4 separate regions of the Homo sapiens genome follow, and all the other regions are linked to region 3. Evidence: fine-mapped expression QTL. A gene starts in region 3. Each other region holds a variant in brackets. All regions are shown on one strand. Distances are between the middles of the regions.

Region 1 (5,151 bases), 58 kb before region 3:
TGGGGTTTGGCTCCAGGTTGATGGCTGGATCCCCCTTCCCAATACTGAAACAGCTCTGATGACTGGAGTGTTCGAACACCAGGGTCCTTAGTCTCGCACCAATTTTGATAAAACAACATGGACACACGTGGAGTAGTTTTAAGGAGTGAAAAGTTCAACAGTCAAGAAAGATGGAAGGAAGGAGAAAACAGCTTCCCTGTACAGAGACAGAGGGAGGGGGGATTTCTCTCTGTAAGCCATTTTCTGCTATCCTCCCCGCGCTCCCCCCCGAAACCCCCACCCCTACACACACACACACACACACACACACACACACACACACACACACACACGGCAGGGCGTGAGGAGAGAAACGACTGTCTGTTTTCACACTGCTATAAAGAACCTCCTGAGACTGGGTAATTTTTGAAGAAAAAAGGCTTAATTGTAATTTACTTACAGTTCTGCACAGTTAGGGAGGCCTCAGGAAACTTACAATCATGATGGAAAGTGAACGGGAACCAAGGACCTTCTTCACATGGTGTCAGGGAGAAAGAGTGAAGGAGAAACTGCCACACACTTTTAAACCATCAGATCTCATGAGAACTCACTATCGTGAGAACAGTGTAAGGGAAACCACCCACGTGATGCAATCACCACCCACTAGGCCCTTCCCCTGACACGTGGGGATTATAATTCCAGATGACATTTGGGTGGGGACACAGAGCCAAAGCATATCAAACTTCATGTCTATTGCTGGTACACGGGGATTCATGTCTATTGCTGGTACACGGGCAAGCAGGTATGAGGTGGGGCATCAGAGCCCTCCTTACAACATTCATGTATTGCAAAGTTACTTCCCTGCAGTGATGACTGGGAGAGTCTTATTATCTGCAATTCTGAACACTCCTGGATTTAAATGGTTTCTTTCATCCCTGTCTATACAACAGTTCGTTTATCAGCCAGCTATATTGTAATTGATAAAGAAGCCATGGGGCCATGAGAATACTGACATCAAACAGTTACTTTTCAGCTTCCTTTCCTACCTTTAAATGGTCATGCCTCTCCCTCAAAGGGACTTTGGAAAAATCATTTAAACTCTTACTCCACCACTAAAATCAGGTGAACACACAAAGCAATCTAGGGCTTGGAGCGATACATAAGGCTGGTGGTGTGTATCTGAATGTTTTTCTCTAAACCTGGGGTTTTCAACCAAGGGCCCATAGTCATGGCAGAACGCCTGGCATATATGACACTGCTGGTAGTGTGGGCCACTTTTCCCCACAGGGGCAGGTGGGGAGAGGCTCCATGACAATCATACTCTCAAAAGGGTCTGTGATGCCAAAATAGAACAAGAGGCACTGTCCTGATTGGTTCAGCTAGGGTTTCTACTTCATTTATTTACTTCATGTGGAAGACTGAAGAAAAGGCAAGAATACCCACTGGAAGTAGAGGGGAGGCCTGGCTGCCCCTACAAATATCCACAGAATGGCACAACCCTAAGTGTCCTTCAAAGATCTGTCTCTTGGCTTCACGGCTTCAAGGTCTGAATTGTGACCATTCAGAAGACTGACATCTTCCTGGGAGCAGCAGATTTTATAATGGAGAAGCCTTCTTGGTATGTAAGAAATCAAAATAAAAGAATACGCTGGATGCGGTGGCTCATGCCCGTAATCCCAGCACTTTGGGAGGCCGAGGTGGGCGGATCACCTGAGGTCAGGAGTTCAAGACCAGCCTGGCCAACATATAGTGAAACCCCGTCTCTATTAAAAAAATACAAAAATTAGCTGGGTGTTGTAGTGCACACCTGTAGTTCCAGCTACTTGGGAAGCTGAGGCAGGAGAATCGCTTGAAGCTGGGAGGTGGAGGTTGGAGTGAGCCGAGATCGTGCCACTGCACTCCAGCCTGGGTGACAGAATGAGACTCCATCTCAAAAAAAAAAAAAAAGGAAGAAAGTTCAGGATTTGCATGGTGGCCTAGGCTCTTACAATTGTGATAAGGATAAACCTGCTTCATGTGGGACTCAGACACCAGAACTATGTCTGACCTGTGCTGTGCTTAAATGGGCTTTGCCAACACTGCCTTAGGAGTCTCCTTTTCCTAGCCCCTAGGATTAACCAGTTTGAGGAATGGCCTTCCTTTCCTTCTCCTTTTCCTATTCTAGATACATTAAGGTATTCAATCATGATTTTCTAAGGGCTTTTTCTTAATAACCAAGTAGGAATATGTCCACCCTGATGAATTCTGTGTTAATTTCATGCATTAATAATGCTCAGAGAACTGCCTTACTTCCTATTCCTTGGAAGCTAACTCCTTAGAGCTTCCTTGCACACACACTTCTAAGAGACTTTGTAAGAACTTTTTTTGTGTTTAGCTTTTGCTGAGAGGAGGGTGAAATTTAATAGAGCGCACATAAAATTTCATCTAAAGCTTCCTGTTTGTTCATCCTGGCAAAACAGAGGTACAGAAAGGCTGTGAGGGAGTACATCACTCAGCCTTGAGGACTTGTTTGCATCTGCATTGCACAGTGGGGAATGAGAATGTGACCAGTGACTAGAGTAGGTTATTTATTTATTCATTTATTTGAGACGGAGTTTCGCTCTTGTTGCCCAGGCTGGAGGGCAATGGGGCGATCTCGGCTCACTGCAACTCTGCCTCCCAGGTTCAAGTGATTCTCCTGCCTCAGCCTCCAGAGTATCTGGGATTATAGGCGACTGCCACCATGCCCGGCTAATTTTTTTGTATTTTTAGTAGAGACAGGGTTTCACCATGTTGGACAGGCTGGTCTCAAACTCCTGACCTCCTGATCCACCTGCCTCAGCCTCCCAAACTGCTGGGATTACAGGCATGAGCCACCGCGCCTGGCCAATGACTAGAGTAGGTTACTATTTATTTAGCACCTACTATACGTTCCAGGCACTGTGCTTGGCACTGGGGATGGAAAGACAAATAAGATCTATGCCCCATAGGGACCCTAATGTGAACAAATGGAGCATATTGTGCTAAGTGTTATGGTGGAGGTAAGAATAAGGTGACTTGAGAGAACTGTGTGTTAGGGGAAGGGAAAGGGACAAGGATGGAAAAGAGTAGGTGTTTTCCAGGACAAGGTAGGGAACACAATGAGTTCAGGAACTACAGTCTCCTATGCCTGGA[G/A]CCTGGAGTATGTGAGAGAAAGGAGAGAGATGAACCCAAAGAGGAAGGTATGTGTTGCTGAGAAGTCAGCAGCAATTTATCTGTAGGTGGTAGGGAACATGGGCATTAGTTTCCTGCAGCTGCTGTTACATATCAGAAATTTGGTGGCAACAGAAATGGATTCTCTCACAGTTCTGGAGGCCAGAAATGCTGAAAACAAGCTATTGGCAGGACTATGCTCCCTCTGGAGGCTCTAGGGGAGAATCCTTTCCTTGCCTCTTCCAGCTTCTAGTGGCTACTGGCATTCCTTGGCTTGTGGCTGCATCACTCCCATCTCTGCCTCTGTGGTCACAGTGCCTTCTCCTCTTCTGTTGGTGTCAAATCTCCCTCTGCTTCCCTCTTATAAGGATATACATGATTGCATTTATGGCTCACCTGGATAATTGTGCATAATCTATTTTAAGATCCTTAATTACCTGCACAAAATACCACCCCCACTCCACTTTTCACTGTCTAAGGTAACATGTACACTTTCCAGAGATTAGGACATGGGTATCTTTTGGGGAACATTTTTCAGTTTACCACACTGTGGGAGATGTTAAGCAGGGCAACAAATGAGTCAGACTTATGTTTACAAAGATCCTTCAAGGGATGGTGTGGCACAGTCAGAAAAAACCTTCTGAAGACATTGATTAAACCTTCCTCATTCTTCTGTGTTTAATGACTACTTAGTATTCTTGTGAATGAATGTACCATAATTTATTTAAGCACTTCCCTCATTTATGAACTTTTAAGTTGTTTCCAATTTTTTTCTATTACAAACAATGCTACAATGAATCACCTTGTAATGGGCCAATTGCACAATGTGCAAATATAAATGTAGGTAAATCAGGAGCCCATATTCTGGGTTCAGACTCAGACACATTGGAGAAAGATAAGAGTGGATGCCTGTTACATTTTACAATAGATAATATTAATGGATTGTGAAATATATACTGAGCACTGTTCTAAGCATTTTTGAAATGGCTTTATTGCAATAGAATTCATATGCCATACAGTTAATTCAAAGCATACAATTCAATGGTTTTTAGTATGTTCAGAGCTGTGCATGCAACCATTACCACAATCTAATTCCAGAACATTTAAATCACCCCATTAGTCTCTTACTACCATTTCCCCTCCTCCATCCCTAGGCAACCATTAGTCTACTTTCTGTTTCTATGGGTTTGCCTATTCTGGACATTTCCTATAAATGAAATCATACAATATATGGTCTATTGTGTCTAGCTTCTGTGAAAGGGAAATATCTTGGGCCCCCCCAAATTACTAAAGGGAAAATTCAAGCTGGGAACTGCTTAGAACAAATCTGCCTCTCATTCTATTCAAAGTTATCACTGTGTTCACTGAGATAAATGCACATCTGATTGCCTCCTTTGGAAAGGCTAATCAAAAACTCAAAGGAGTGCAACCATTTGTCTCTCACCTATCTGTGACTTGGAAGCCCCCTCCCCCCTTGAGTCTTCCTGCCTTTGCTTCGAGTTGTCCCGCCTTTCCAAACACAACCAATGTACTTCTTACACATATTGACGGATGCCTCATGTCTCCCTAAAATGTATAACACCAAGCTATGCCCCAACGACCTTGGGCACATGTCGTCAGGACTTCCTGAGTCTGTGTCACAGGTGCTGTTCCTCAACCTTGGCAAAATAAACTTCCTGGTTAACTGAGACCTGTCTCAAATTTTCGGGCTCCACACTTCTTTCACTTAATACAATGTTTTCGAGGTTCATCCACGTTGTAGCATGTGTCAGTACTCCATTCTTTTTTATTGCATGGGTATGTCACATTTTATTTACCATTAATCAGTTGGTGGCCATTTGTATTGTTTCCACTCTGTTGCCCAAGCTAGAGTGCAGTGGCTTACTGTACTGACAATCATGGCTTACTGCAGCCTTGACCTCCTGAGTCCAAGCCATTCTTCCTCCTCAGCCTCGCAAGTAGCTTGGATTACAGATGCCCGCCAGCATGCCTGGCTAATTT
Region 2 (5,151 bases), 30 kb before region 3:
GTACTATGTTGAGTAGGAATGGTGAGAGAGGGCATCCTTGTCTTGTGCTGGTTTTCCAAGGGAATGCCTCTAGTTTTTGCCCATTCAGTATGATATTGGCTGTGGGTTTGTCATAAATAGCTCTTCTTATTTTGAGATGCGTTCCATCAATACCTGGTTTATTGAGAGTTTTTAGCATGAAGGGCTGTTGAATTTTGTTGAATGCCTTTTCTGCATCTATTGAGTTAGGGAGGATTCCCTCTTTTTCTATTGTTTGGAATAGTTTCAGAAGGAATGGTACCAGCTCCCTTTTGTACCTCTGGTAGAATTCGGCTGTGAATCCATCTGGTCCTGGACTTTTTATGGTTGGTAGGCTATTAATTACTGCCTCAATTTCAGAACTTGTTATTGGTCTATTCAGGAACTCGACTTCTTCCTGGTTTAGTCTTGGGAGGGTGTATATGTCCAGGAATTTATCCATTTCTTCTAGATTTTCTACTTTATTTGCGTAGAGTTGTTTATAGTATTCTCTAATGGTAGTTTGTATTTCTGTGGTATCGGTGGTGATATCCCCTGTATCATTTTTTATTGCATTTATTTGATTCTTCTCTCTTTTCTTCTTTATTAGTCTGGCTAGCAGTCTATCTATTTTGTTGATCTTTTCAAAAAACCAGCTCCTGGATTCATTGTTTTTTTCGTGGTCTCTATCTCCTTCAGTCCTGCTCTAATCTTAGTTATTTCTTGTCTTCTGCTAGCTTTTGAATTTGTTTGCTCTTGCTTCTCTAGGTCTTTTAATTGTGATGTTAGGGTGTTGATTTTAGATCTTTCCTGCTTTCTCTTGTGGGCATTTAGTGCTATAAATTTCCCTCTACACACTGCTTTAATTTTGAAATGGAGTTTTGCTCAGTTTCCCAGGCTAGAGTGCGGTGGCATGATCTCAGCTCACTGCAACCTCTGCCTTCTGGGTTCAAGTGATTCTTGTGCCTCAGCCTCCCAAGAAACTGGGACTACAGGCATGTGCCACCACACCCGGCTAATTTTTGTATTTTTAGTAGAAACAGGGTTTCACCATGTTGGCCAGGCTGGTCTCGAACTCCTGACCTCAAGTGATCCTCCTGCCTCGGCCTCCCAAAGTGCTGGGATTACAGGCGTGAGCCACCATGCCCAGCCCCATGTCCTTTTTAATGCCTGGATTGACTTTGTGGGACATGAGGCCAAGGTACCTTTTAAGATGTCACCTGTATAGCATACTAGTAGTGAATGTAGGCTTTGAAGTCAGATGCATCTGGCTGTGAGCTGTGACTAGTCATATACTAGTTGTGTCATTTTGAACAGGTTACCTAACCTCTGGCTCCTCAGTTTGTTCATCTGTTTAAAAATTGTGGGAATAACAGTTCCTGCTGGGTCATTGCAAGATGTCAGTGAGACGTGTCAAGTGCTTAGAATAGGGCTTGGCATAAGTAGAGTCTCAGTAGGGTAGGTGTTATTTAATCCCAGAAATAACTGACAACTTTGGAAGATGAGAGTGAATGTCTCCGATCATTAATTTATTTAACAAATACTTATCTAGTACTATGTGCCCGGCGCTGTAGACACTGCCATGTTTTATCTCATTCAATATTCACAGTGACTGCCCAGTGAATGGTATTGCCTCCATCCTCTGAGAAGGTAAAGAGCCTATCCCAGACCCCACGAGTGGAGGCGTCAGGGAGGGGTTCTTGGCAGGAGATGGGTCTTGTAGAAAGGCTTCTGCTTTGCTTTCACTCACGGCCTGTGGCCAGTTTGCTCAGACAGCTCCCATCAGGACACCATTGGCAGCTTTTGCATGACCCTGCCTCCCAGGGTCTTCCTGCGTTTTTCCTTAAGTTGCCTTATTCTTTGGTTGTTTCCCTACTTGTTTTTGTTAGACTGTGGGAGGAAGAAATCCATTTCAAATCTGCTGAAACCTGTTACCAAGCAACAGCAGTGATTAAAAGCAACCTGATGAGTGAGTAAAGAATTAGGGTTTCAGACCTGTAGTTAATGATGGTCTCTGTCTCCCTGCTGCCCTGCATTCCCTTCCCTTCCGTTCACTGCTGGGTGAAGGAGGGCTTGCTGCATTTTGGAAGTTAAGGGAACCAATAAGGTGACTCTTTTGCAGATTGGAATATGGTGCTCAGCCAGCCATATGGAAGCACTGTCCTGGCGTGATCTGCCCTGGGCTGTTGGCTCTCTGAGTGCTGTCTTGGGAGGAGCACTGCCCTTCAGAACAGAAGAGATGGCTTCCAGTCCCCTCTCCCCCTTCTCCCAGTCTCTCTGAGGCTGCTTGTTGGGTATTGGGCGTGCTGTGTACTAACTCACTCCCGTCTCTTGTCTCATTATCTGAAATGCATCCCCTTTTGCAGAAAGGGCTCAAACGGAGCCTTCAGTTCTGCTCCTCTGCATAGCCGTAGCTCAGATCCTAGCTCA[A/G]GATGTCTTGTCTGGGAAGGGCAAAACATGGTCCCCAGTGTAGCATTTTCACTGGGTTGATTATCTCAGTGGTGGATCATCTATCACCCTTGTGTGGTGACTTTGTGAATTATCTGCCTGAGTGCCACTTCCCTTCCACCCTAATCACTGCAGGCTCAGGGAGCAAGAAATAAAATCATGAAATGCATTCCAAATAAAATTACCTTTTGGCTGGGTGCAGTGGCTCACACCTGTAATCTGAGCACTTTGGGAGGCTGAGGTGGGTGGATCGCTTGAGGTCAGGAGTTCAAGACCAGCCTGGCCAACATGGCAAAACCCCATCTCTACAAAAAATACAACAGCAAAAAAATCAGCCAGGCTAGCTGGTGTGCGCCTATAATCCCAGCTACTTGGGAGGGAGGCTGAGGCACAAGAATTGCTTGAACCCAGGAGGTGGAAGTTCAGTGAGCCGAGATCGCACCCCTGCACTCCAGCCTGAGCAACAGAGTGAGACTCTGTCTCAAAAATAAATAAAAAAAAAAATCACTTTTTGATACTTCTGTTAAAATAGATAATAAGGAACCATATCTTAAAGTGTGGAGGATCTGGCTTGGCTTCTGTTTTTGATAGCTCTATGAAAGTGACAGATTTGCATCATGAGACTTAGTGGAATGAATTGGGAAATTGAAGGGCAGCCCAGTGGCTATGGATTCTATTTTCTATGGGACTGTCTACGCCAGGCTTTATTTTCTCTTTGCTCAGATAACTTCTGACTAGAGTCGACGGTAGGATTATAAATGGTTTAAAATACGTATTCTCAAACCTCATTTTCAGCATATAAATTTTTAAGAATCAGTGTTTAAAGGTACGTGAAACCATTTGCTAGATTTTTGTCCTAGTTTTTTTTTTTTAATTTAAAAATCTTAAGTTTTTTTTAGTAAGCTTAAGATGTCCAGTAGTTTATTTGCAGACAGCATTTTTAAAAAGTGAATAGATGTTTAACTGAAGTTAAATACAAATTTATGTCTGTGTAACTCTTGGTAAGATATAACAAAACCTAGACATCTAAATTTTTTGGAAATTTTTATTTTAAAAGTTTGTTGGGAGGTAAAATTGTGTGACTTTACCTTCTGGTTAATAGTTTTATAGTTAAGAAGAAAGTCCAGCGAAGTTTACTTGATCTCAGTTGCACTCAAGAATAGGGGATTTAGTTCCACTTTGGTTATTTTCACTTCTACCCTAAATTCATAGTCCCTGATACTTAAGCTTTACCCTTGGCTTACCAGTTTTCATTGCAGCGAGTAAATGGGGAGTAGCAGAGCCTTTGTTAATGTAAATTGACAAAAAGTATGTCCTTTTCTAGCAGGAGCAGATAAACTGATAATGGTCTTAGAAATGTAGAAAATGATTTTTTGTAGACAGGATGATCTGTCTAGATTGTAGCAAATGATGGTACATATTCACAACAAAGTTGTGCCACTACATTTAATAAACAGCCACAAACAACAAAAGGACAACTGGTCCCCGATATAAATGGACTAGCTACCTGGACATAATATCCTTGTGAGGCATCCTTAAAGGACAAATTGCAGCTGGTATTTGGGTGAATGTTGTTGCTCTGTGCCTGTTGAATGTCCATGCTACAAGAAGTTATGAGCCTTGTTCTAAGTACAGATGAACCTTGTATTTGTGTAATCTCCCAAGGGAGAGCTATGGTTTACATTCAATTTTTTGGTCTTTCTGCTATGAAACGTGTTTATTTTGCCTCTGTCAATGTGTTTGCAACCTTAAGTAAGGAAAGGGAAAAAAAAAATAGCCCTCTGAACTCTGATCTTTTGCCGCTTCTGTAGATTTTGATTGTGAAGTTGGGAGTGAGGACATTCAAAAGCCCATGGTGAATGCATATGCCTTTAGAATATTGTGCCTGTTTTAAAATGTTTGAGCTTTTAAAATACGTTGTTAAAACATGAATCCATTTTTGTAATTGTATAAATACTCATAACTAATTTTGAATGCTACTGATTGTGTAACTGAATTTTTGTATCCAAAAATACATTCTTGAGTACTACTTTTCCTACCTTGAAAATCTATTTCATTTACTAAATATTGTTTTCTTTATGCTAACTTAACTTTAAAAGGAATGTTGCCAAGCTGTCTCTCCTCCCCCATCACAATTGTTAGTTTTTTTTGCTTTCTTTCTTCAATAAATGATAGCATTATGATCTTTAATAAATCTAGTGTTGTCTCTTACTCATGTCTGTATTTCCAGGAGTCTTTAAGCCAAAGGAAGACTGTAGAACTGTAAGAAAAAACCGTATCTTTAATTTGAATTCTCAGTGTGTAGCACACATTATAGGCACTTAAAGATGTTTTGGGGGACCTAACCTGACATGTAGTCCTCTCTTTTAAATGACTTAGGGTTTCACATGGGTCTAGGGACAGTTTGGAAGGTTTTTAAAAAGTAAGACATTTCCTTAAGTGTTTATTTTGGAAAAAAAATACACACACACATACATACATACATACATACATACAAACAAATAAATATATATATTTTTGAGATGGAGTCTCACTCTGCTGCCCAGGCTGGAATGCAGTGGTGTGTTCTTGGCTCACTGCAACCTCGGCCTCCCAGGTTCAAGTGATTCTTGTGCCTCAGCCTCCGAAGTAGCTGGGATTACAGTAGCGCACCACACCCAGCTAATTTTTGTATTTTTAGTAGAGACGAGGTTTCACCATGTTGGC
Region 3 (5,151 bases):
ATTGGCTGCTTGGAAGCTCAGAGCCACAATTGTGTCACAGTTCTAAGCAGCGCCTTCTCAAAATCTCCACTTATATACCTAATAGTCTTTGCATTAGTCTCCTATTGCTGCTGTACCAAATTACCACAAACTTAGTGGTTTAAAACAACATAAACCTATTATCTTACAGTTTGGGGAATCAGAAGCCCAAAATTAGTTTCACTGGACTAAAGCCAAGGTGTCAGCAGGACTATGTTCCTTCTGGAGGCTTTAGAGGATAATCTATTTCCTTATCTTTCCCAGCTTCTAGAGACTTCTTACATTCCGTGTCTTCTGGCCCCTTTTTCCATCTTCAAAGCCAGGAGTGTAGCATCTTCTCTCCCCTCTGACTTCTGCATCTGTCCTTACATCTTCTTCCTCTGACTTTGATCCTCCTGCCTCCCTCTTATTTTTGCGATTGCACTGGGCTCACCAGATAACCCAGGTTAATCTCCCCATCTCAAGACCCTTAACTGAATCACATTTGAAAAGTCCCTTTTTCCCATGTGAGGTAATACACTCACAGGTTCTGGGGATTCGGAAATGGGTCTCTTTTGCAGGGGGTCCTTATTCAGCCTGCCACATTCTTTTCAGTGTTAGCTGTATGAAACTGAAATGTTTGAGTCTCCTAACCAAACTGTACCTCTGCCTACCCTTCCACCTCCCTCACCTTCCATATCTCAGTAAATGGCCCTGCCATCTAATAATTGTTCTGATCAGGCACATGGTTCTCTGCTCTCCCTCACCCCCATATCCAGTCTCTCATGTTGTTCTGTCATATAGACTTCTAAAGTGTATCTAGAACCTGTACACTTCATTTTTTGGCCACTGCCACTACCCTAGGCTAAGCCATCACCAGCTCTTGCCTGAATTGCTGTCATAGCCTCTAATTTGTTCTTTACTTCAGCTCTTGCCCTTTCCTAGTCTATTCTTCACAAATCGATTAGATTTTTTGCAAACACAAAGCCAATCATGCTGTTTTCCTACTTAATACTCTCCAATTGTTTCCTATCTCATGCTGAAGAACATTCAAATTCTTCATCATGACTTCTAAGGCCTCATGGTCTGGCCTGGCCCTCTCTCAAAGAACATCTCATTCTGCTCTCTTTACCACCACATTCTGGTCACACTGGCCTCCCTGGAGATTTCTACCTGGCTCAAGCCATGCTTCTCACATGTAATTCTTCTGCTTGGCACTCTGCCAACTCTTCCCCGACTACATCTTTGCTGAGCTTTTGGTCTCATCTGAAATGTCTCCTCCTCAAAGAAGCTGTTCTATACAACTCCATCTAACTGGAGTTCCCTACCCTGCTGTGCACAAATTTTTCTTGATCACTTCACCCTTTTAAGTAGCCTTCATAGACTTATCACTATTGATAATTACTTAGTTGTTGTTTACTTTATATCATTTATTTTCTCCATCATATTGTTAATTCTGTAAAGGCGCAGGCCATTTCTGTTTGTTCCTTGCTGTATGTGATGCTTCATAGGTATGTAGCATAGGAGATCCTGAATACATTTTCTGTCATCCTTACCCTGACTTTATCTTACCTTTTTGGGTTTGTTTTCCTTATGTTCTTGTTTTCTTACTTTGTATTGAAATGAGAGAAAAACTCACAACCCCCAGGCTCTACTCAAGGTTGGGGGCCAGAGGAGGTAGAGCTTCCTCTGCTCCTGTCTCTTCCACCCGCCATCCACTCACTCGCCATTAGTACTGTGTGTTGTGGGCAAAAGAAAAGCTTTCTACTAGTGTTTCTTCCCAGGGAATGTGGGATTCATCCTGGAATGCCAAAATAAGGATGAATTGTCTAAAGAGAAAACCAGAATGCCTTTCTGGACCAAAGATTGAAATTGCTCTGCCTAATAATGTAAACAGTTTATTTTCACTGACTGGGGGCAGAGTGTTCCTTAGCGAGATTAATATGATACTAGCTGCTTTTTTGTCTTCCTCTGGCAAAGGCTAGAGATAACAAAAATTGGGGTTCTAGACTCTAGGGAGGAAGGACAACATTCACAGCTCCATTTGTAGGAGGTGAGGAGGGCCCTTGAGAAAAGTGGGGTGTGAGCGAGTATAGGACATTCAGGAGAGAGATGATCAGTAGGGGACACCCTGGGAGAAAGAGATTCTGAGCTCTTTTCTTTTCTCCGGAGCCCTGACCCTTGAGCAGTGGCACACAGAGTGTCTTCCTTTATTCTCTGGTACAGTAGTCATGTTTCTTGGCACAGTGCCTTGGACCTTCCATACATGCTTTCTTCCCTCCAGAGCCTTCGTCTAAGATGCTGGAGAGTAGCTTATAGCCTGGGCATCAAGTTTGTCGATTCTCCCCAGGACCCTTTTCTTTATAGGTGCCACATGTCATGATTTATGCACAAACATGATTTGCCTGACAGTGCAGTCTGGGCCTGGAATAATTTTAATTAATGGGAAAATGGTCCTCAATACACCGATTAGACCTCTTCAGGTACAACAAGATAAAAGCCTGATAATTTGGATGGAGTACTCTTCTTAAATATCTACTCTGTGCACGGCAGCCAATGGGAAAGCCAGGCTCTCTCCCACCTGATCCAATGAGTAATTAAGAGAGGGCTTTTTCTTCCCTACCTCTCCCCTGCCTCCACCCCGCTCCCCAACTAAAGCTTAACAGGTTGGTGGCATAATGTGGAGACTTTTAAGGGGTGTCATCCTAGGAGCTTAGGCAAGAGCCAGGGTATCTTCTCTCCGCTCCCCAAGCACTGTTCAAGTGGGTTTGAAAAGCAGGCAAGTGAGGGAAGGAAGAAGCTAGAAGCAGGCAAGTTGGGTAACGGCTCTCGGCAAAGTTCGAGAAGTGCCTATGGCCATGAGTGAGCTGGGCACTCGGAAGCCCAGCGATGGCACTGTTTCTCATCTGCTCAATGTGGTGGAGAGTGAGCTTCAGGCAGGGAGGGAAAAAGGCGACCCTACGGAGAAGCAACTTCAGATCATCCTGGAGGATGCACCTCTCTGGCAGAGATTCAAGGAAGTCACTAATGAGATGATTGTGACCAAGAATGGCAGGTGAGTTTATCTGCCGCCCCGCGTGGGCTGGCAGGGCTTGGCAGGAGAGATGAGACCCCTTGAATATTGAAGAGGCTGCCGCTCTTCACTCAGAGGCGGCGGGATCTGATTAAACATGCTTACAGGAACGACTGTCTCCAATGGCTTTCCTCCAGCCAACTTAATTAATTTATCTGAGATCATCAGAGGATGAAGCCACCTGTCTTATGTGCATTTTAAATGGAGAAATTCTGGGGAAATTACCATAAAGTGGGGGGCATGCCCCATTGGGATGGGAAAATGGACTTAAATGTCAGAAAATAATATTAATTTGTGACTAGCTGCATACCCTATCGCAGACCTGAGCCCCAACTCCGTCCAGATAAGGTGAAAGACAACTTTATTTGGAAGCTGGATGATCTCCTCCTAAGTATAGCAAACTTGCCAGAAATGTTTGGCTAGTTGAAGATTGGAAGCAAAAGGGCAAATGTAAACTCATTGCCTATCACTTCATCTGCTTCCCCGTGTGTGTTTGTGGTGAGTGTTCATTTGAGATTGTGTGTGTTTGTGATGATATGAAAGCTGTTGCAGTAATAGTGGATGAAAACATATTATTCTGCTTTAGAGAAAAGAAGATGCCTTCTTTCTTATCAGTGCAACAAATTTAGGGATTAACTGAAACTGATCTCTGGTGGCATTTCTCAGATTCTATTAAACCTAGTCTGCTAAGGGGCTGTCCAGGTAATATTAGAAGATTTCACTTCGTAGAGGAGACGCAAATATTTTGAAACAAAATCTCACCGCTCGCAGCTTGGCCAAACTGGCTCCAACATTCAGCTGGTGTTCACATAGCTTTTCATACACATGGTCACAAAAGTACAAAATGCTGAAAGGCATTTTCAGTAGGCTTAGTTTTGGCTGAACTCTAATTATGACACCCTCGAGAGAATTCTGATAAAAGAGAAGAGCCGAGGCCATCTGAACTTCTTTCTGTCAGGCTTTTGTCCTTGTGCAAAGTGCTTCCGTTCCTGATGTCTCGGTTTTCTATATTTTAATAAAGCACAGTATAGAAAATGAACTATTTCTTGTCAATCTTGAAGAGTTATGAACTCGAGAGCTGTTACATGGCATTAAAATGCTTTCTAAAATGAAAGCCATACCTGAATTAGGGCATTTCAAGAAATTGCGATTATACCAGTAGCAGGAATATCAACCTTGCTTGATTTTTATATTTTCTTTCTCAAAATGGGTTCCACACTTATTTCATATAGATTTATTGCTTTTAATATTGTTACTGTAATTATAGTTCCTTCTCTTGACCTGTATTTACACATTATTTTTAGCTTCTTTCATAGAAGAAAACATAAAACATAGTTTTAATTTCACAGAATTACACCAAATTCTTAATTGGATTTAGTCTCTGACCCTTTAAAAATGGGCAAAGATGCAACTGTAAAAATTTTATTATATCTGATTATAGGTAGAACATTCTGCTTATTTTTCTTTGTATTATTGGATACTAATTACAGTAATACCTAGCCTTATGCTATTGATTGGGCTGTCAAATTGGCCATTTATTAAAGTAAAAATAAGTACAATTACCAAGTCAATATATGGTTCATCTATTTCAATAAGGAATAAATAATAAAAGTTTCTGAAACCATGATAAATTCCAATTTAATAATATGTTACATTGGAATGTACTTTTACCATTTAAGAAAAGTTTTATCTTGCCTTTTTATTGCCTATGTAATTTTCCCCTATATTTAAAATGTAATATTCTTCACATCAGCCCAGTGTGGTGGTGTGCTCCTGTTGTCCCAGCTACGCAGGAGGCTGAGGCAAGGGGTCCTTGAGCCCGGGATCAGTCTGGGCAACACGGTGAGACCCTGTCTTTAAAAAGCAAAATGAAATCCTTCATCTTTAACGTCATTTAATATTAGCTACATGAACAATATTCTTTGTAGAAAAAGTCTGATTGCGGTGAACTTGGCTGTTCTTATCTATGGATGTCCTGCTGTGTTTGCCGTCTTCCTATAGATGAAATCTTTTTCTTAAATTCTCCTAAGCTCTCGGAGCCCTTTAGGGTCAAGATTTTGCCAGGAGATAGAAAGTTTCCT
Region 4 (5,151 bases), 38 kb before region 3:
AGGAGGGTAACAGTTATGAAATACTCCATGCAGACCTGGCTGGTTTTGGGGCCTGGTGGCTTGTCTGAGAAGAATATGGGCAGGGATGTCCTGGGAAGCTAGATTTTTATGTGAAGTAAACCGGAGTTCATCATTACTGAGGATCCAATGAGATATTGATCAACCTGCCAACATATGAATATTTTTTGGTCCCTGAACCAGCTGCATAGTTTTCAGGGCCCAGTGCAAAATAAAAATGTGAGCTTCTTGTTCAAAAATCATAGGCCGGGCACGGTAGCTCAGCCTATAATCCCAGCACATTGGGAGGCTGAGGTGTGCGGATCACGAGGTCAGGAGTTCAAGACCAGCTTGACCAACGTGGTGAACTCCTGTCTTTACTAAAAATACCAAAATTAACCGAGCGTGGTGGCGTGCACCTGTAATCCCAGCTACTCAGGAGGCTGAGGCAGTAGAATCGCTTGAACCTGGGAGGCGGAGGTTGCACTGAGCCGAGATCACGCCATTGCCCTCCAGCCTGGGCAACAGAGGGAGACTCTGTCTCAAAAAAAAAGATTAAGAATTTCAAGATGGCAACATCAAATCAAGGCATTAAACCCAATGTGGACCCTTCTGAGTATGGGGCCAATGCAGTTGCACAGGTCTCATTCGTGAAACTTGCTTGGAGTCATTTGTCAGAGCTTCAGTCTTGATCTGGATTGGCATGTATAAAATTTATGTACAAGTGATTGATAGAATGAGGGAATTTTATTTGAGATAGTGAGTTTCATGTGCTGAGGAGACGAATTACTCCTCTAGTAGGGAGGGAATCACAGAGCTAGATCCCACCCTTCTATTCTTTTTTTTTTTTTTTTTTTTGAGATGGAGTCTCACTCTATGGCCCAGGCTGGAGTGCAGTGGCCCGATGTCAGCTCACCTCAGTCTCCAACCTCCTGGCTTCAAGCTGTTCTCCTGCCTCAGCCTCCATGTGCACGCCACCATGCCAGGCTCATTTTTTGTATTTTTAGTAGAGATGGGGTTTCACCGTGTTGGCCAGGCTGGTCTCGAACTCCTGACCTCAAGTGATTGGCCCACCTCGGCCTCCCAAAGTGCTGGGTTTACAGGTCCGAACCACCATGCCTGGCCCCACCCTTCTATTTGTAAGTTCCCCTGGAATAGCTTTTCCCACAGTGTTCCACAGAAATAGTGTTTCTGTGGAAGAAAAGAGTTCTATGATCAAGTAAGTTTGAGAAACAGGTTAAGCAAAATTAGGTAGGTTCCTCTTTGCCTGGCTTGCTAGATCCTTCCATATGCTATGTGTATTGTGAGCTGCCATGAGGGGGACTTATGTGGCCATAAAACCCTTCTTGTGCAGAGACTCTTCTGAGACTACAGTGCAGAGTATATCTCAAGAAATGCTGCCCTGGAACCATCTTGATATTAAAATGCAGTGCCTACTCATGGAAATGCATCCATTCACCTCTCCCTCCCTTATGTGACTCCCAATGTCCTTAGTGCAGCACAGTTGAGAACGTGGAACAGAGCTGGGGTATGAGAAGCCTAGTGCCACATTGCACAGTGTGGTGTGGTGGTGGAAATGGAAGTGCTTGCTTGGGTAGAATAGTAATTTCTTGAAGACCAACTCTTCCTTGCACCCTCTACACTGAATTCCAAGCAGTAAATACCTGTGATAAGGCCATTATAGCATATTAATAAGTGCTCAGGACCCATAGTGAGCTCCCTTCTGCTGCCTGCTTAGAATGAAGAAAGGTCCCAGTTAATATTTGATTTAATGCTGTCAGTGCATTCTGTGATTTTGACCGATATTAAAGTGCAGCAATCCTGACTGATTTCTTAGTTTCTGACAGTCTATGTTATCTTTTTCTCTGATTATGATGGCTAATCCCATAATCAGACTGTCGGGTAAGTGGGGACATCCCCTCTTACAGATGAGGAATTTGAAACTCAAACAGGACAAGGAACTTTCCCAGGATAGTACTACTAATAAATGTTGAAGCTGCAGTTTGATGCTGTGAAGGTCTGATCTTTCAGTCTAGGTGCTTTCTACTCTGCAGCTTCCACTCTGGGTGCCCTCTAAAGGAGTGCCTTTGGGGTGATGACGTTCCACTCATCTTTGTGTCTTTTCTTTCCTAGGGATGCTGTGAAGAAGTGTTTTGCCGTGTGTCTTGCATAATTCATGGCCAGTTTTATGAAGCTTTGGAAGGCACTATGGACAGAAGCTGGTGGACAGTTTTGTAACTATCTTCGAAACCTCTGTCTTACAGACATGTGCCTTTTATCTTGCAGCAATGTGTTGCTTGTGATTCGAACATTTGAGGGTTACTTTTGGAAGCAACAATACATTCTCGAACCTGAATGTCAGTAGCACAGGATGAGAAGTGGGTTCTGTATCTTGTGGAGTGGAATCTTCCTCATGTACCTGTTTC[C/G]TCTCTGGATGTTGTCCCACTGAATTCCCATGAATACAAACCTATTCAGCAACAGCACATAAGCCTTGGGTGCAAGTGATTCCCAGGTGGCAAAAGGCAGCCCCATCAGAGATCACGGGAGCAACAGTAAGGGACAGAGTTTTGGGGTCCACTTGTCCCTCAGCATGGAAGCCATCACCGTGGTCCTGCATAGAGTGAGTCTGCTTCTACTCTGGCATCTGAGAACAAGTGACTCTGCTTTAGACAAGCCCCTGGAGAGCCTGGCCATGGAGTGAGGTAGAAAAGAAGCACTTTTTGGTGGTATATGCTGTTTCTGAATTTGAATCTAAGCATTCTTGGTGTTCTGATTCTGCGCCTGACTGTGGAATGTATTTTCTGACATTAGGTGCAGACTCTTTTTCTCTTGGGTTTTATTTCCCATCCCTCCCTCCCTCTCCCTGCATATCTTTCTTTATGACCTCCTGGCACTAGATGGGGAAAGAACAGAGCAGCAGCAGAAAATGCTGCTGTTTTTTTTTTGGACGAGAGCCCATAGGAGTTGAAAAATCCTGCTGCTCTCAGCTATATTTTTTTCTCCATTATTTATAAATGTTTGCTTTTAAACTGATTTTATTTTCCATTCTCCCCTGGAGTTGGGCCAGGGGAGAGTGGGGTGGGAAGACAGATCCCTGCTGTGCAGCCAGCAGGAAGTAGGCACGCCTGCCCAGTGACCTTTAAATAGTCCCAGTGTTTGCACTTAGCCTGTGCTGGGGACACTGGGGATAAACTGCAGGTGGTCTCATGTCAGCCTGATGCCTAACCTACAAAGTGCTTTTGTGTCCACGATCTTACCTGGTTCTTATGGAGAGCCTTGTGAGGAAGCAGGGATTGTTATACCACTGTGCAGTCAAGGGAATCAAGGCCCACACTGGTTTTTGGATCCACCCAAAGCCACAGCTTCAGCCTCCTTCATGACCCCAGAGTTTCCTGGCCTGTTTCTGGTTGTGCCTCCTGTAACTGCCTGTGACTGTTTCCCTCGTTTTCATCAGCCAAGCCATCTCCTCCCTGGCCCTCCCTGCCCATCTCTTTTGGAAGCTTCTTCCTGGATCTGCAGGATGTTCACTGTCCCTTGTGTTCCCTTTCAGCTCCTCCTTGTTGCCTGACTACGATTAGTGCCCTGTCTTGTCAGCCAGCATTCCTGGCCCTCCAGGACCTCCAGAGTCATCCTACAAATGACGTTTATCTGGATTGCCTTTCTGTTCTTTGCACAGGGCCAACTGGTCCACTAGGGCTCCTCCTCTGTCACTGCTAAACCAAAGGAAGTGGCCTGCTGGTTGTCCCCTTTCTTGTGGCTAATTGCTGAACCTTTCTTTGTCCTACTGTGGCTAAGAACTCTGACTGGTTTTTTTTTTTTTTTCTTTTTGAGATGGAGTCTCACTCCGTCGCCCAGGCTGGAGTGCAGTGGCGTGATCTCTGCTCACTGCAACCTCCACCTCCCGGGTTCAAGCAATTCTCCTGCCTCAGCCTTCCAAGTAGCTGGGATTACAGGTGCCCGCCACCACGCCCGTGCTAATTTTTGTGTTTTTAGTGGAGACAGGGTTTCACCATGTTGGCCAAGCTGGTCTGGAACTCCTGACCTCAGGTAATCCGCCCACCTTGACCTCCCAAAGTGCTGGGATTACAGGTGTGAGCCACTGTGCCCTGCTGATCTTTTCTTCTGAGGCTGGGGAGGTGTGAACAAGCCTGACGGGGCCAGAGAGAGGAGCTAGTCTTCCCAGGTTCTTTCTAGGCTATTGATGACATCCAGTCATCTGCTCAGGTCACTAACCTGTCCTCAGCCAGGAAAGGAAATTTTATGCTACCCCTCTGGCTTTTGTGGGATTCTTTCACATCCCAGGTGCCTCTTGGAGACAGATCTCAGAAGGGCTGTGGTGTCAGAAGGGACATGGAGGAGGTCAGGAGGGCTCATGGTTCCTTTTCTTTAGAACTGATACGAGGCTTGGCTAGTCACTGTGAGCTCCAGCAGCTCCAGCAGCCTGGAATAAGACACCTAGAAGGCTCATCCCTCCATGTCCATGTCCTTTTTTTTTTTTTAGATTGAACAACCATGCTTTGTTTAAAAAATAATCTCAGCAAACTAGGGATACAAGAGAATTTCCTCAACCTGTCGAAGGGCATCTTTAAAATATCTACTGCTAACATCCTATGTAATGATGAAAGGCTGAATGTTTTCCCCTAAGATTGAGAATAAGACAGAGATGTCAACTCTTACCACTTCTATTCAACGTTGTACTGAAAATTCTAGCCACTGCAATCATGTTTTAATTGGGAGTAGGGGGAAAGAGGGAGGGAAGGAGAAAAATGAAAGGCCTTTAGATTGAAAAGAAATGAGTAAAACTGTCTATTCACAGATATTATCATCTATGTAGAAAACCAAATCAAATCCATTACTAAGTTACTGAAACCAGCAAGTGAGTTTCGCAACACAGCAGGATATATAATTGATATACACAAATCAATTGTGTTTCTCCATGTTAGAAGTAAAGAATTAGGAATTGAAAATTTAAAAATAATACCATTTACAATAGCATTAAAATATAAAATTCTTGGGAATAAACCCGACAAACTATGTGGATTATCTGTACACTGATAACTAAAAAGCATTGCTAAGAAAAATTAAGACCTAAGTAAATATCTTGTTGATAGGTTGAGAGACTCAACATTGTTGATGTTAATTCTTTCCCATATT

The links.
Region 1: its variant is fine-mapped to the expression of TBX19 in whole blood (TOPMed, PIP above 0.99).
Region 2: its variant is fine-mapped to the expression of TBX19 in whole blood (INTERVAL, PIP 0.98).
Region 4: its variant is fine-mapped to the expression of TBX19 in whole blood (TOPMed, PIP above 0.99).

What each region holds. Positions count from the first base shown.
Region 1 is chr1:168,220,076-168,225,226 of GRCh38, forward strand. No RefSeq gene overlaps it. Among named protein-coding and RNA genes, the nearest start is that of SFT2D2, 3.4 kb to the right of the region's middle. The variant G/A (reference allele first, on the strand shown) is at 3,133.
Region 2 is chr1:168,248,387-168,253,537 of GRCh38, forward strand. It overlaps SFT2D2 (SFT2 domain containing 2), which reads left to right. Exons shown (of 8, transcript NM_199344.3): 8 at 1-4,635. Among named protein-coding and RNA genes, the nearest start is that of SFT2D2, 25 kb to the left of the region's middle. The variant A/G (reference allele first, on the strand shown) is at 2,428.
Region 3 is chr1:168,278,242-168,283,392 of GRCh38, forward strand. TBX19 (T-box transcription factor 19) reads left to right here and starts at 2,636. Exons shown (of 8, transcript NM_005149.3): 1 at 2,636-3,052. The coding sequence starts at 2,850.
Region 4 is chr1:168,240,371-168,245,521 of GRCh38, forward strand. It overlaps SFT2D2 (SFT2 domain containing 2), which reads left to right. Exons shown (of 8, transcript NM_199344.3): 8 at 2,131-5,151. The coding sequence ends at 2,170. Among named protein-coding and RNA genes, the nearest start is that of SFT2D2, 17 kb to the left of the region's middle. The variant C/G (reference allele first, on the strand shown) is at 2,424.